Linked DNA regions of Homo sapiens. The protein of the gene in region 4 purifies or fractionates together with the protein of the main gene of each other region. This does not show direct contact. Each region holds a gene or a part of one and is shown on either strand. Other genes may lie near its edges.

Region 1 (4,105 bases), on a different chromosome or scaffold from region 4:
AACTATAAAACAAAACTTCAGATCTATGACATGTTATGAGTTCCCAGCTTTTATTGTCATTTACTACTATGTATCACTAGGTAAAGCACTTGACTTCTCTGGAGCTCTTTCTTCTACTCTACTTCCTTCTATTTCTCCTGTCCCTTTTCTATGACATTAGTAGGAAACTGGCCATGAAAGAATAAAAATAGTTCAACTTACCTGGTAAATTCTAACAGATATTTCAAAAACTAATTTGATTATAAAATCACAGTATACCACATTATTTGTTATAAAAGGATAGGTGTCTAAAAAATAAAAAATAAAAATGTAAGGAAAACAGAGAAAAACATAATGCTTGTCTCTGTCAGTAAATAAAAGTTATGTGTAAGTAGCCTTTGAGCTGCTGAAAACATATTCTTATGAAAAAATACAAAGTTTCACTTTTCATTCACCAATGATAACCATTTACTCCCTTTTACACACAAAACAAGTATAAATCCAAATAAATTTATATTTGAATATAGCACACTAATTACAGAAAAGCATACTCTTAACTCATTTTAAAGATGTCATGAAGCAAAAATAACTAATTTAGTGTCTATCGATGATTTGCCTACATCCTGTTTACTCACAACTGTAGCTGCTGAGTTCATTTTTGTACTCAATCTGGAATTATAACATTAAGATACTAACTATTGTCTAATTTTCTGTTTTCTAAGGGAGCTGATTCATCTGAAGAGGTGAGTCATTTTCATTCACTGGAAAACTTGTTTTCAGTTTTGTCCTCCCTACATTTGTATTGAATTATTAAACTTTTCTTCATTTTTCACAGAAATTTTTGCGTAGAATTGGAAGATTCGGTGTAAGTGTTCTCTGATAATGCTGTGTAGTCCAAATAAATTGTGTTCTCTGATTACTTATTCTTCTAGAAGAACCAATACTTATTTCTCAAATATGTGTAGTAGTTGCAAAAGTGTGCTTTGTTTTCCTCTATTTATGATACACAGGTAACAGTCACAAATGTATTGTGTCCTAACAACATTTAAGTTGAAACTCATAGTGCCAACCTGAAGAAACCAGTTACTCCCTGAGCCCTCAAGTATCATCTCCTAAGTAATCACTTTGACCTAAAAAATAGTTGAAATTCTAATTCTGTTAATTATAATATATGCCTCATGGAGCATAAAGGCTGATAATTACACATAAAATATGGTAAGTTTGCACCTTCTGATTTTTTTTGACGGTGATAAACTCATTAAATTAAACAGGTCATGATAAATGAGATAGCAAATTTCATTTATTTAACATTTTTCTTAATGTATGTATCTTGATGTCCCAGTATGTTGACATATAATGTCAATGTGATAGGGTTGCAAAAGATCCCCTAACTAATATAGTGAATACATGGATTAAAATAACACCAAATAAAAAGATACTCTAAAAGGGATGATGGTTATTTGTGTTAACAGAAGGAAGAAGTATTAAGGAATGTAGGAATCGTAAGAGACAGTAAGCTCATTAAAAGAGTGACTTGAAGAAACACCACATAAGCTGAATTTAGTAAATGTCTCCTTCCCATAATACTCAAAGGTGGGCAAAATGGTTGCTGGGAGGTAGTATTTTGAAGAAAATTTAAAACCTCTTTGGAGTGATAGCCTATAATCGGTGTTCCTGCATGTGAAATAAAACCACAAAACTGTGAACATGCAGTACAAAGGTAAACACTCAATCATTTTTACCTGCTTTTAAAATGTGTTTATAACCAAAAAGAAAAATCTAATTGAAAGTTTGGAAAAAAATCTTATAAGTAATATGTAAGTTCCTAAAACTTTAACAATCTAAGCTTCTAATAAAAACGCTTGCACTGTCATTATCTCAATTTTCTGCAATTTTCTTTCTCCTTGTGTGTATACAGTATGGGTATGGCCCTTATCAGCCAGTTCCAGAACAACCACTATACCCACAACCATACCAACCACAATACCAACAATATACCTTTTAATATCATCAGTAACTGCAGGACATGATTATTGAGGTAAGATGGGTTTAGTGACATTTTTTTTACTTTCTGTATCAGTGCTGACAGTTAAAAGAAGAAAAACAAAAACAAGACATTAAACCAACAGCAGTTCCAGTATAAGAAAGCAGCCAGCTGTATAGCTCCTTGAAATGTATTAATTTATATAAATGCTTCTGAGATAGTCTCTGTCCTGCTATGGTTAGAAGGCAGTGTTATAGAGTGGGGGACACCAGGGTTTGTATGCTGGCCCTGACAACTACTAGTTTCATGACTTTGAACTACTCCTAATGCTCCTGAACCTCAGTTTTCTCGTCAAAAAATTGTGTATTATGATAACACTTAAATGTGCTTTTTAGAATTGGTGACACTTTTGAAAGACATATCACATAAAATCTCTTGATCAGAAAGGTTTGTAGTTATAACTGCAGGGCTTCCCTGCCACTAAATCTGTACCTAGGTGTTGCTTAAAGTTTTCACTCCCAAAATGCAATCTTTGGAGAAGCTTCCATCTGGGAACCATCTGGGAACTTGTGAGAAATTTGCATTTTGTACCCTAAGTAACTCTACTGAGCAATTACTATAGAAATTATTAACATAATGCTAACAAGAAAATATGGAAATGTTATCAATTTCTTTTTAGAAAGTCAGTTTTACCTATCTCTACACAACATTAAATGTTCTAAATTCTATGAAAAAATAATATTTCAAAACAAAATAGAGCAAACTCTTGGAGATAAGGGAGGATTGTTCTACAAAGTTAAAATAGTCCAAAGGATTTCAATTATTTTTCAGTGCATTTGGGAGATTATATTCCAATTCAATTCTCTATTGCCATTAGTGATACAGGGAAGAGCCTGAACTTGATCCCCTAGGTTTTAGGTAATAGCTGATGACATTTAATCAAGAAAAGATGTATTGAAATATTATTTAGAGGAAATGCATATAAATGAAATGTGTAGGCTATATTTAAGTAGAAGAATAAAATAGTATGATGATTGAAAAATAATTTAAATTGTAGATGCTGAATGATAATTTTTATTTATTCAGGAACCAATTTAATAATTGTTTAATTGTCTACTCTGTGTCAAATATTATTTTGGGCCCTGCATTTTATAAACTATAATTGTATATAATATCTACTCTGTACCAGGCCAGAATATAAATGTGTTTACAGGGGTAAAAATTTTACAGATAATCTGTTATTTTTTTTTTTCTGTGCAGGCTTGATTGGCAAATACGACTTCTACATCCATATTCTCATCTTTCATACCATATCACACTACTACCACTTTTTGAAGAATCATCAAAGAGCAATGCAAATGAAAAACACTATAATTTACTGTATACTCTTTGTTTCAGGATACTTGCCTTTTCAATTGTCACTTGATGATATAATTGCAATTTAAACTGTTAAGCTGTGTTCAGTACTGTTTCTGAATAATAGAAATCACTTCTCTAAAAGCAATAAATTTCAAGCACATTTTTACATGTATGCTCCTTATTTTTCTCTTTTCTATTTATAGGAATAATGATTTCTTTCATCATCTTCTTTCCCAGTTTGACTAGCACAGATTGAAGCCCATAATGTCAGAGGTCCTTATTTATAATTTAGTCTGTCATATTTTATATGTTACAAACATGGTACTCAAACTCACTTATTATTAGAGCTATTTATGCCAAGATTTGATTTGCCCATGGTTTCCTTTGCCACACCACAGTTGCTAAGCCTCCAAAGCACTCACATTTTTTATCTCAGTCCCTGTAGGTCAGAAGATAACCACCATGTCACTCTACAGCAGTATGTAGGCACTCTGCATGTAAACCATCTAATGCCCTCCATTAGTTTTTCAGCAATGACTTTTATTCAAGAAATATTTATTGAATGACCCCAGCTGTCAGGTCCTCTTCTAGATGCTGCAGACAAAGAGAGACAAAAGTCCTGTCTTTGGAGAGTTTACATTGTAGTTGGGAGATGCAGATACAAAGTAAATAAATAGTACATATCTTAGGCAATGATAAGTGTGCTAAAGAAGTATAAGCATGTCTAGGGCACAGAAACAAATTTAAACAGGATAGTCAACAAGAGACTCTCTGACATAGTGA
Region 2 (3,287 bases), on a different chromosome or scaffold from region 4:
GTCTGCTGACTGCTGGTGGCGGGATCCGTGTCTCTCTCCTGGACTTGATCTTGCCTGTTCATGGGATGATGCAGCCTGTCCACCAGAGGAAGTCTCTGCGTGACGAGTGCCTGATTGTCTGGAGCGGTCTGCAGAGTGCCCGTGACCGGCTCTGTCTTCGTGATGGGACCTGGGGTGTCTGGAGCCGTGCCTTGACTGCTCCTGAACAGATCCACGATGGTTTCTGGAAGCAGACCCAGACCACCTCTCAGAGTCTTCTGAATGTCCCTCACTGTCACTGTCCTGGCTCACACTGGATCCCTGGCGCCTGCTTCTCCTGGACCCCTCTGATTGTCCCTGGACTGCCTGTGAGTGTCTAGAGATGTCGGCATGAGTGGAAGCTTCATGGTGACGTGACACTGAGTGCCTGGAGCTGTCTCCTGATTGTTCCTCATTACGTGTTGTTCTGCTTGCACTTCTGGATCCTGACTGCCCACGGGAGGCATCAGACCTTCCCTGGGATGTGGTGTGGCTGTGATGGGACCCTGAGTGTCCAGAGCTATCTACCGAATGCTCGTGGTGGTACCCCTGCCTTCCTCCTCTGCTTGACCCCGGGTGTCCACGAATGGTGTCCTGACCGTATTGGGATGCTGAGTGCCTGGAGCTGTCTTGTGCCTGCTCATGGCGGGATCCTTGTCTTCCTCTAGTGCTGGGCCCCGTCCATCCATGGGAGGACTCAGACTGTTCATGAGTGCTCACCTGGTAGAGGAAAGATCCTGAATGTCCAGACGTTTCCCCTGACCGGCCACGTGCGGACTCTTGGTGGCTCTGCTGATGGGACCCAGCCTGTCCGTGGGCTGACACTGACTGTGTGTCTGAGTCTTCTGAATGTCCCTCATTGTCACTGGCCTGACTACCACTGTACCCTCGGTGTCCACTGTCTCTGACTGCAGATGAAGCTTGTCCGTGCCCAATGCCTGAGTGTCTGGAGCTGTCTGCTGACTGCTGGTGGTGGGATCCATGTCTTTCTCCTGCACTTGATCTTGCCTGTTCATGGGATGATGCAGCCTGTCCACCAGAGGAAGTCTGTGTGTGACGAGTGCCTGATTGTCTGGAGCTGTCTGCAGAGTGCCCATGACCAGCTCTGTCTTCTTGATGGGACCTGGGGTGTCTGGAGCCATCTCTTAGCTGCTCCTGAGCAGATCCATGATGGTTTCTGGAAGCAGACCCAGACCACCTCTCAGAGTCTTCTGAATGTCCCTCACTGTCACTGTCCTGGCTCACACTGGATCCCTGGCGCCTGCTTCTCCTGGACCCCTCTGATTGTCCCTGGACTGCCTGTGAGTGTCTAGAGATGTCGGCATGAGTGGAAGCTTCATGGTGACGCGACCCTGAGTGCCTGGAGCCGTCTCCTGATTGTTCCTCATTACGTGTTGTTCTGCTTGCACTTCTGGATCCTGACTGCCCACGGGAGGCATCAGACCTTCCCTGGGATGTGGTGTGGCTGTGATGGGACCCTGAGTGTCCAGAGCTATCTACCGAATGCTCGTGGTGGTACCCCTGCCTTCCTCCTCTGCTTGACCCCGGGTGTCCACGAATGGTGTCCTGACCGTCTTGGGATGCTGAGTGCCTGGAGCTGTCTTGTGCCTGCTCATGGCGGGATCCTTGTCTTCCTCTAGTGCTGGGCCCCGTCCATCCATGGGAGGACTCAGACTGTTCATGAGTGCTCACCTGGTAGAGGAAAGATCCTGAATGTCCAGACGTTTCCCCTGACCGGCCACGTGCGGACTCTTGGTGGCTCTGCTGATGGGACCCAGCCTGTCCGTGGGCTGACACTGACTGTGTGTCTGAGTCTTCTGAATGTCCCTCATTGTCACTGGCCTGACTACCACTGTACCCTCGGTGTCCACTGTCTCTGACTGCAGATGAAGCTTGTCCGTGCCCAATGCCTGAGTGTCTGGAGCTGTCTGCTGACTGCTGGTGGTGGGATCCATGTCTTTCTCCTGCACTTGATCTTGCCTGTTCATGGGATGATGCAGCCTGTCCACCAGAGGAAGTCTGTGTGTGACGAGTGCCTGATTGTCTGGAGCTGTCTGCAGAGTGCCCATGACCAGCTCTGTCTTCTTGATGGGACCTGGGGTGTCTGGAGCCATCTCTTAGCTGCTCCTGAGCAGATCCATGATGGTTTCTGGAAGCAGACCCAGACCACCTCTCAGAGTCTTCTGAGTGTCCCTGACTGTCACTGTCCTGGCTAAAACTGGATCCCCAGTTCCTGCTTGTCCTGGGCCCCTCTGATTGTCCCTGGCCCACCTGCGAGTGTCCAGAGCTGTCGGCCCGAGAGGAAGCTTCATGGTGACGCGACCCTGAGTGCCTGGAGCCGTCTCCTGATTGTTCATCGTTACGAGTTTGTCTGCTTGCACTTCTGGATCCTGAGTGCCCATGGGAGGCATCAGACCTTCCCTGGGATGTGGTGTGGCTGTGATGAGACCCTGAGTGTCCAGATCTATCTACCAATTGCTCGTAGTGGGATCCCTGCCTTCCTCCACTGCTTGACCCCGGGTGTCCATGAATGGTGTCCTGACCCTCTTGGGACGTTGAGTGCCTGGAGCTGTCTCGTGCCTGCTTGTGGTGGGATCCTTGTCTTCCTCCAGTGCTGGTCCCGGTCCGTCCATGGGCGGACTCAGACTGTTCATGAGTGCTCACCTGGTAGAGGAAAGACCCTGAACGTCCAGACCTTCCTGCTGACCGGCCACGTGTGGACTCTTGGTGGCTCTGCTGATGGGGCCCAGCCTGTCCGTGGGCTGACACTGACTGTGTGTCTGAGTCTTCTGAATGTCCCTCACTGTCACTGGCCTGACTACCACTGGACCCTCGGTGTCCACTGTCTCTGACTGCAGATGAAGCTTGTCCGTGCCCAATGCCTGAGTGTCTGGAGCTGTCTGCTGACTGCTGGTGGTGGGATCCGTGTCTCTCTCCTGCACTTGATCTTGCCTGTTCATGGGATGATGCAGCCTGTCCACCAGAGGAATTCTCTGCATGATGAGTGCCTGATTGTCTGGAGCTCTCTGCAGAGTGCCCATGACCGGCTCTGTCTTCGTGATGGGACCTGGGGTGTCTGGAGCCATCTCTTGACTGCTCCTGAGCAGATCCATGATGGTTTCTGGACGCAGACCCAGACCGCCTCTCAGAATCTTCTGAGTGTCCCTCACTGTCACTGTCCTGGCTAACACTGGATCCCCGGGGCCTGCTTGTCCTGGGCCCTGATGATTGTCCCTGGCCCACCAGTGAGTGTCTAGAGCTGTCGGCCC
Region 3 (2,618 bases), on a different chromosome or scaffold from region 4:
ACATTTTTAAACTTTTTGACTCTCTTAATTAACACCTAGCTTAAAGCACGAACACATTGTATAGCTGAACACAAATATTTTTTTCTTTACATCATTATTCTGTAGGCTTTTTTCTGTTTTAAATTTTTTTAAAAAACTTTTTTTGTTAAAAATTAAAACTAACACTAAAAAGTTTTTGTTAAACCAAGACAAATATCGCCTTCTACCTCCATATGTTGTCTCCCTCTAAGGGCTTCAGGGACAATAAAATGTATGGAGCTGACAGCTCCACATTATTGTGTGTGATTTTGGTGTCATATCAAAAAAATCATTGCCAATACCAGTGTGATGGAATTTTGATCATTTTAAAATGAAGTAGTTTGTCTTATTGAGTTTTAAGAATGCTTTATCTATTCTTCATTGTGAAAAATAGAATATTGGGAAATCGCTGTTTGGTTTGGTTTCTAGGATGACCATCTGTATGTAAGAAGTGAAATGAAGCACAGATGAGAAAAGTCTTAGTATTTAATCAACATTTATTTATTGTCAATTTTAATACAATCCGGTTGTTTGAATCCAAAGACTTGAAACAAATGTGTTACAGTCAAATTAAGGAACTATGTAGCAGTGACAGATACTCTTCCTTTTCATCTGGGCATGGATGATATTTTTTCAGGTGGAAACGTTATTGAACTACAGTAGTAGGTGGAAAGCATTGTATTTCCATGGAATAACTCCTCAATATATTTCCCAATATTGAGCAGCCTCTTAGAAATAGGGAGCAAGATCTTTCTGCTGAAAACAAGCTAAAGCCCACATTTGAATGTTTTTTTTTTTCCTGAAATGATAAATCCCTATTCTTTATGAAATAATGCTCTTGCTCACTGGCTTGGGAAAAGACCCTGATGCTACTTTTTTATGCCACTAATTAACTTACTGATTAAATATATACCCAAGAAAAAGGACTTGATGGTTTTGATAAGTAAAGACACTACCGCTGCTGCATCTTTGCTTTCAGAGCCTTCACCTTCTGCCACAATACCAAAAATTGGGACACACCAAACTTGGGGCACACTAAAAATTAGGGTACACTAATTGCTGTAAAACAAAGCTTTGTATCTAGGACTGGTAATGCATTTGTAATATTTTGCTTCTAAGAAATGTAAGGTTAGCTTTGGCACCATCTATAAATGAATGATGAGCTCTCAAAAAGACAACTCCAACTAAACCCAAAGCTCTTTAAAAGCTTTTCATTATTCCTCAAAGTTTAACCCTCATTCTAACAAGTTATTCCACTCAGTATTTTCTAACAAAGTAGCACAAATGCCTAACAGTCTTTGGAAGGAACCCCATAACAAGATATATGCTACAGTTTTAGGCTCTAAAGAAAGAGACAGAAATGCATTGATTCACTTTTAGAACGAATTTCATGATGGATTGCTTGTCTTTCATGATGAATTCATAGATGACTTTCCTATTTCTTAAATTGCTACTTGAGTAAATTGCATTTATGTTTATTATTCACTGATAAAAGTAGCACCTCTGCTCTTGGACATATTCATAGGGTGAAGTGCTACTAGGAAAACTGAGAAAATATGAGCCAGAACTTCCCCCATCATGGTTACTTCCTCCTTTGCAATAAGAATACCCATCTTGCCCTGAGCCACTTCCATGCTGACTATAACCAGAGGACTGTCCTGAGCCAGACCCATGTTGGCCGTAGCTGGAAGACTGCCCTGAACCAGACCCGTGTCGGCCGTGGCTAAGAGACTGGCCAGATCCAGCCCCATGTCGGCCATAGCCAGAAGACTGACTGGAGCCAGAGCCACGGTGGCCATAGCTGGAAGACTGGCCTGTGCTAGATCCCTCCTGGTCAAAGGTTGATGACTGTCCTGATGTAGAACCATGCTGTCCTTGGCTACAGAAGTGCCCTGAGCCACTACCATGCTGACTGTAAGCAGAGGAATGTCCTGAGCCAGACTCATGTTGACCAAAGACAGAAGAGTGACCCAAGCGAGACTCATATGGGCCACGGCTGGAAGAACGACCTGAGCCAGACCCATGTTGGCCGTGGCTGGAGGAGTGCCCCAAACCGGACCCATGTCGGCCGCGGCTAGGGGACTGGCCAGATCCAGACCCTTGTCGGCCGTGGCCCGAAGACTGACGGGAGCCAGACCCATGCTGACCATAGTGGGAAGACGAACCTGAGCTAGATCCGTGTCGTTCACCCCTAGATGACTGTCCTGATCTAGAGCCGTGTTGTCCGTAGCCAGAGGAGTGACCTGAGCCAGACCCATGCTGACTGTAACTAGAGGACTGCCCTGAGCTAGACTCGTGGTGACCAAAGCCAGAAGACTCGCCTAAGCCAGACCCATGTTGGCCACTGCTGGAAGACCGACCGGAGCCAGACCCATGTCGGCCGTAGCTGGGAGACTGCCTTGACCCAGACCCACGCTGGCCGTGGCCTGGAGACTGGCCAGATCCAGAGCCCTGTCGGCCATAGCCAGAAGACTGACTTGAGCCAGAGCCATGCTGACCGTGGCTGGAAGACTGACCTGAGCTAGCTCCATGTTGGCCACAGCTCGATGACTGTCCTGATGTAGAACCATGTTGCCCATGGGTAGAGGAATGACCTGAGC
Region 4 (2,717 bases):
ATACATAGCATGGAATATGATGCACCCATAAAAAAGAATGAGATCATGTCCTTGGCAGGAACATGGATGGAGCTGGAGGCCATTATCTTTAACAAACTAATGAGGGAACAGAAAACCAAATACCACAGGTTCTCACTAACAAGAGGGAGCTAAATGATAAGAACATATGGACACATACAGGGGACAACAGAAAGTGGGGCCTACCTGAGAGTAGAGGGTGGGAGGGAGGAGAGGATCAGGAAAAATAACTAATGGGTACTAGGCTTAACTCCTGGGTGACAAAATAATCCGTACAACAAATCTCTGTCACACAAGTTTACCTATATAACAAACCTGTATATGTATCCCTACATTTAAAATTTAAAAAATATAAATAAAGACAAATGTTAGTCAAATATGGGCGAAAATAACAAAAAATCACTATTTTTCATCATTTTATAGAGACTACAAATTTCCTTCTTCCTCCCTCTGCTTTCAAAATAAGTGACATTAACCACATGTTGGCATTTAAGTTTTTCACCAATTTATTGCTAAGAGGAAACATATAATAATATGCTATAGGGTCATAAAACCCACTTTGCAGCTATAGAAGCAAGTTCTGCCTGTGCCTGTGTATGTGTATGTATGACAGTGGACATGTAAGTGTGAAACTTTAAACACTATTACAGTAAGAAGTCTTTTGTTGAACTTTTGTTAGTTTGAGAGGCTGCAATGATTTTTCTCCTTTCAAAATGCTGAAATAGAACTCATCATTTTGCTTTTCAAATTAGCAACAGGTAGCTGGTTTGGAAGGCTGGAGATTGATTTCTCTCCAGCTAGCAAGTCGTGGGGTCAGGTCACTGAAGCATGTGGGTGATATGCTGAACCACCAACTTGGCAAATATTGAACTATTTTAAGTGCATCTATTTTCTGGTTCAGTAAATTTTTTGTTGTGTTAAATTCATTAAACTCGACACAGTCTAAATGCCACAGCACATACTGGAGAACCCATAAAGTAACAGCAACAGCTATAAAATATAGCAAAAGGTAAGGATCGATATACTTTCTCTCTGTTTCTATTTAATTTTTATCTTTCATATTAGGACTGGAATTTGTTTGAAAGTTAAAAAGTACTGTGTGGCTGGGAAAATCATGTGGAATCTTATACTTTCTGAAAATCTGAAGGAAGGTCTCTTTATCAGTCAAGTTGCCCTCCACACTAAGATGATGACATATATGACCTACAATTCAGGATCACTTAATAACTTGGGGGATAAATGAGAAATAAGAATTACACTCTGTTACCTACATTTTGGAAAAATCTTGTTTTGTATAATTTGCAAAAATATTGATTCAAGGACACATCCGAAGACTTAAGATGGGGCTTTGATAATGTGATTATTCTTTATTCAGAATTGAAATTTTCATAAGGATAATCAAGTTTTTGGCACACAAACTGTTATTGTGATTTAATGTAATTTTTTTGAGAGAGTCGTTTGTTATTTTTTAAGTACCACTTTTCCTCCAACAAGGAGTAGTCATAGCAATTCAGAAAAGTAGGGAAGGTGCAAGGTGTGAGGAATTTCCATTCTAGCATGGGTTGTAACTATCAAAATTACAAAATTGATTTTATACTCCACATGAAAAATGATAATAAGTGAAGAACAATTTTCCAGTAATTTTTCTTAGCAAAATAGAAAACAAAATAATCAATAACAGAAAATTGTGAAAATAAAAACCCAATACACATGTAGAGAATAAGGATATAGGCACTAAATATAATTCTTTAAAGCTTCCAGAACACATAGGGCAGAAGTGATGCAGCCATCAAAGTTGGACTGAGTAAATCCATCCCCTCCACATGCAAGGAAAGGTTTGTGATGCAGAGTCATTTGGCCAGGACAGTTGGCAGCAGCATTTGTAACCTGAAAAAGTAAAAAGAGGATTGCAATTGACATTCTGTGCTCTATTGTGCTGTCATGGCAACACCCACCTGGAAAAGGTTAGTCTACCTGGAGAAATCAAGATTTCTCACAAGAAGCACCAAACAAACAAAAAAAATGCACACACAAGAAACAAAAAACAAACCAAGACTCACTAAACGCCCCTCAACCCCAGTTCAAGTGTTTATATTTATATTCTTAAATGTTTAAATTTTCAGTTATTAGATAAGGTAATCAGAAGTGGGCTGAACTTCAAAATTAGTAGGGGCTATAGTCTGAAGGTTTATCCCCCTGAAATTCATATGTTGAAGTCCTAACCCCCGAGGTGATGATATTAGAAGGTGGGGCATTTTGGGAGGTGATTAGATCATGGGCAAACTCCTCATGAATGGAATCAGCTCCTTATAAAACAGGCCCAAGGAAGCTTGTTGGTCCTTTCCACCATGTGAGGACACAGCCAGAGGTGCCATCTATGAGAATGAGGGCTCTCACCAGACACTGGATCTGCCAGTGCCTTGATCTTGCTCTTCCCAGACCCCAGAACTGCCAGAAAGAAATTTCTGTTTATCAGCCACCCACTCTATGGTATTTTGCTATAGCAGCCCAAATTGACCAATACATCCTTCTTCAGTTTCTCTCCACTACTCCTCATCCCATGGTTCCTTCTTCCTCACATATTTCCTGAGCGCTGTTCTGGCCCAGGCTCCATGCTGAACATTGGAGCAGGAGAATTTTAAAATTTCACAACCTTGTCCTTAAGGAAATTTCAGTCCTGAGAGTAGACTGACCCCAAA

Evidence for each region. The genes of interacting proteins can lie anywhere in the genome.
Region 1: the proteins of RNLS (region 4) and STATH purify together in Homo sapiens (pull-down; one study listed by IntAct). This does not show direct contact.
Region 2: the proteins of RNLS (region 4) and FLG purify together in Homo sapiens (pull-down; one study listed by IntAct). This does not show direct contact.
Region 3: the proteins of RNLS (region 4) and HRNR purify together in Homo sapiens (pull-down; one study listed by IntAct). This does not show direct contact.

Annotation. Positions count from the first base shown.
Region 1 is NC_000004.12:69,998,966-70,003,070, forward strand, and holds the end of STATH (statherin isoform a precursor), read left to right. Parts: intron 1-701; coding exon 702-722; intron 723-814; coding exon 815-844; intron 845-1,897; coding exon 1,898-1,984; 3' UTR 1,985-2,017; intron 2,018-3,223; 3' UTR 3,224-3,605; downstream 3,606-4,105. UniProt on the Homo sapiens protein: Salivary protein that stabilizes saliva supersaturated with calcium salts by inhibiting the precipitation of calcium phosphate salts. It also modulates hydroxyapatite crystal formation on the tooth surface.
Region 2 is NC_000001.11:152,304,953-152,308,239, forward strand, and holds part of FLG (filaggrin), read right to left. Parts: coding exon 1-3,287.
Region 3 is NC_000001.11:152,211,576-152,214,193, forward strand, and holds the end of HRNR (hornerin), read right to left. Parts: coding exon 1,501-2,618; 3' UTR 501-1,500; downstream 1-500. UniProt on the Homo sapiens protein: Component of the epidermal cornified cell envelopes.
Region 4 is NC_000010.11:88,283,602-88,286,318, forward strand, and holds the end of RNLS (renalase isoform 1 precursor), read right to left. Parts: intron 1,906-2,717; coding exon 1,753-1,905; 3' UTR 501-1,752; downstream 1-500. UniProt on the Homo sapiens protein: Catalyzes the oxidation of the less abundant 1,2-dihydro-beta-NAD(P) and 1,6-dihydro-beta-NAD(P) to form beta-NAD(P)(+). The enzyme hormone is secreted by the kidney, and circulates in blood and modulates cardiac function and systemic blood pressure.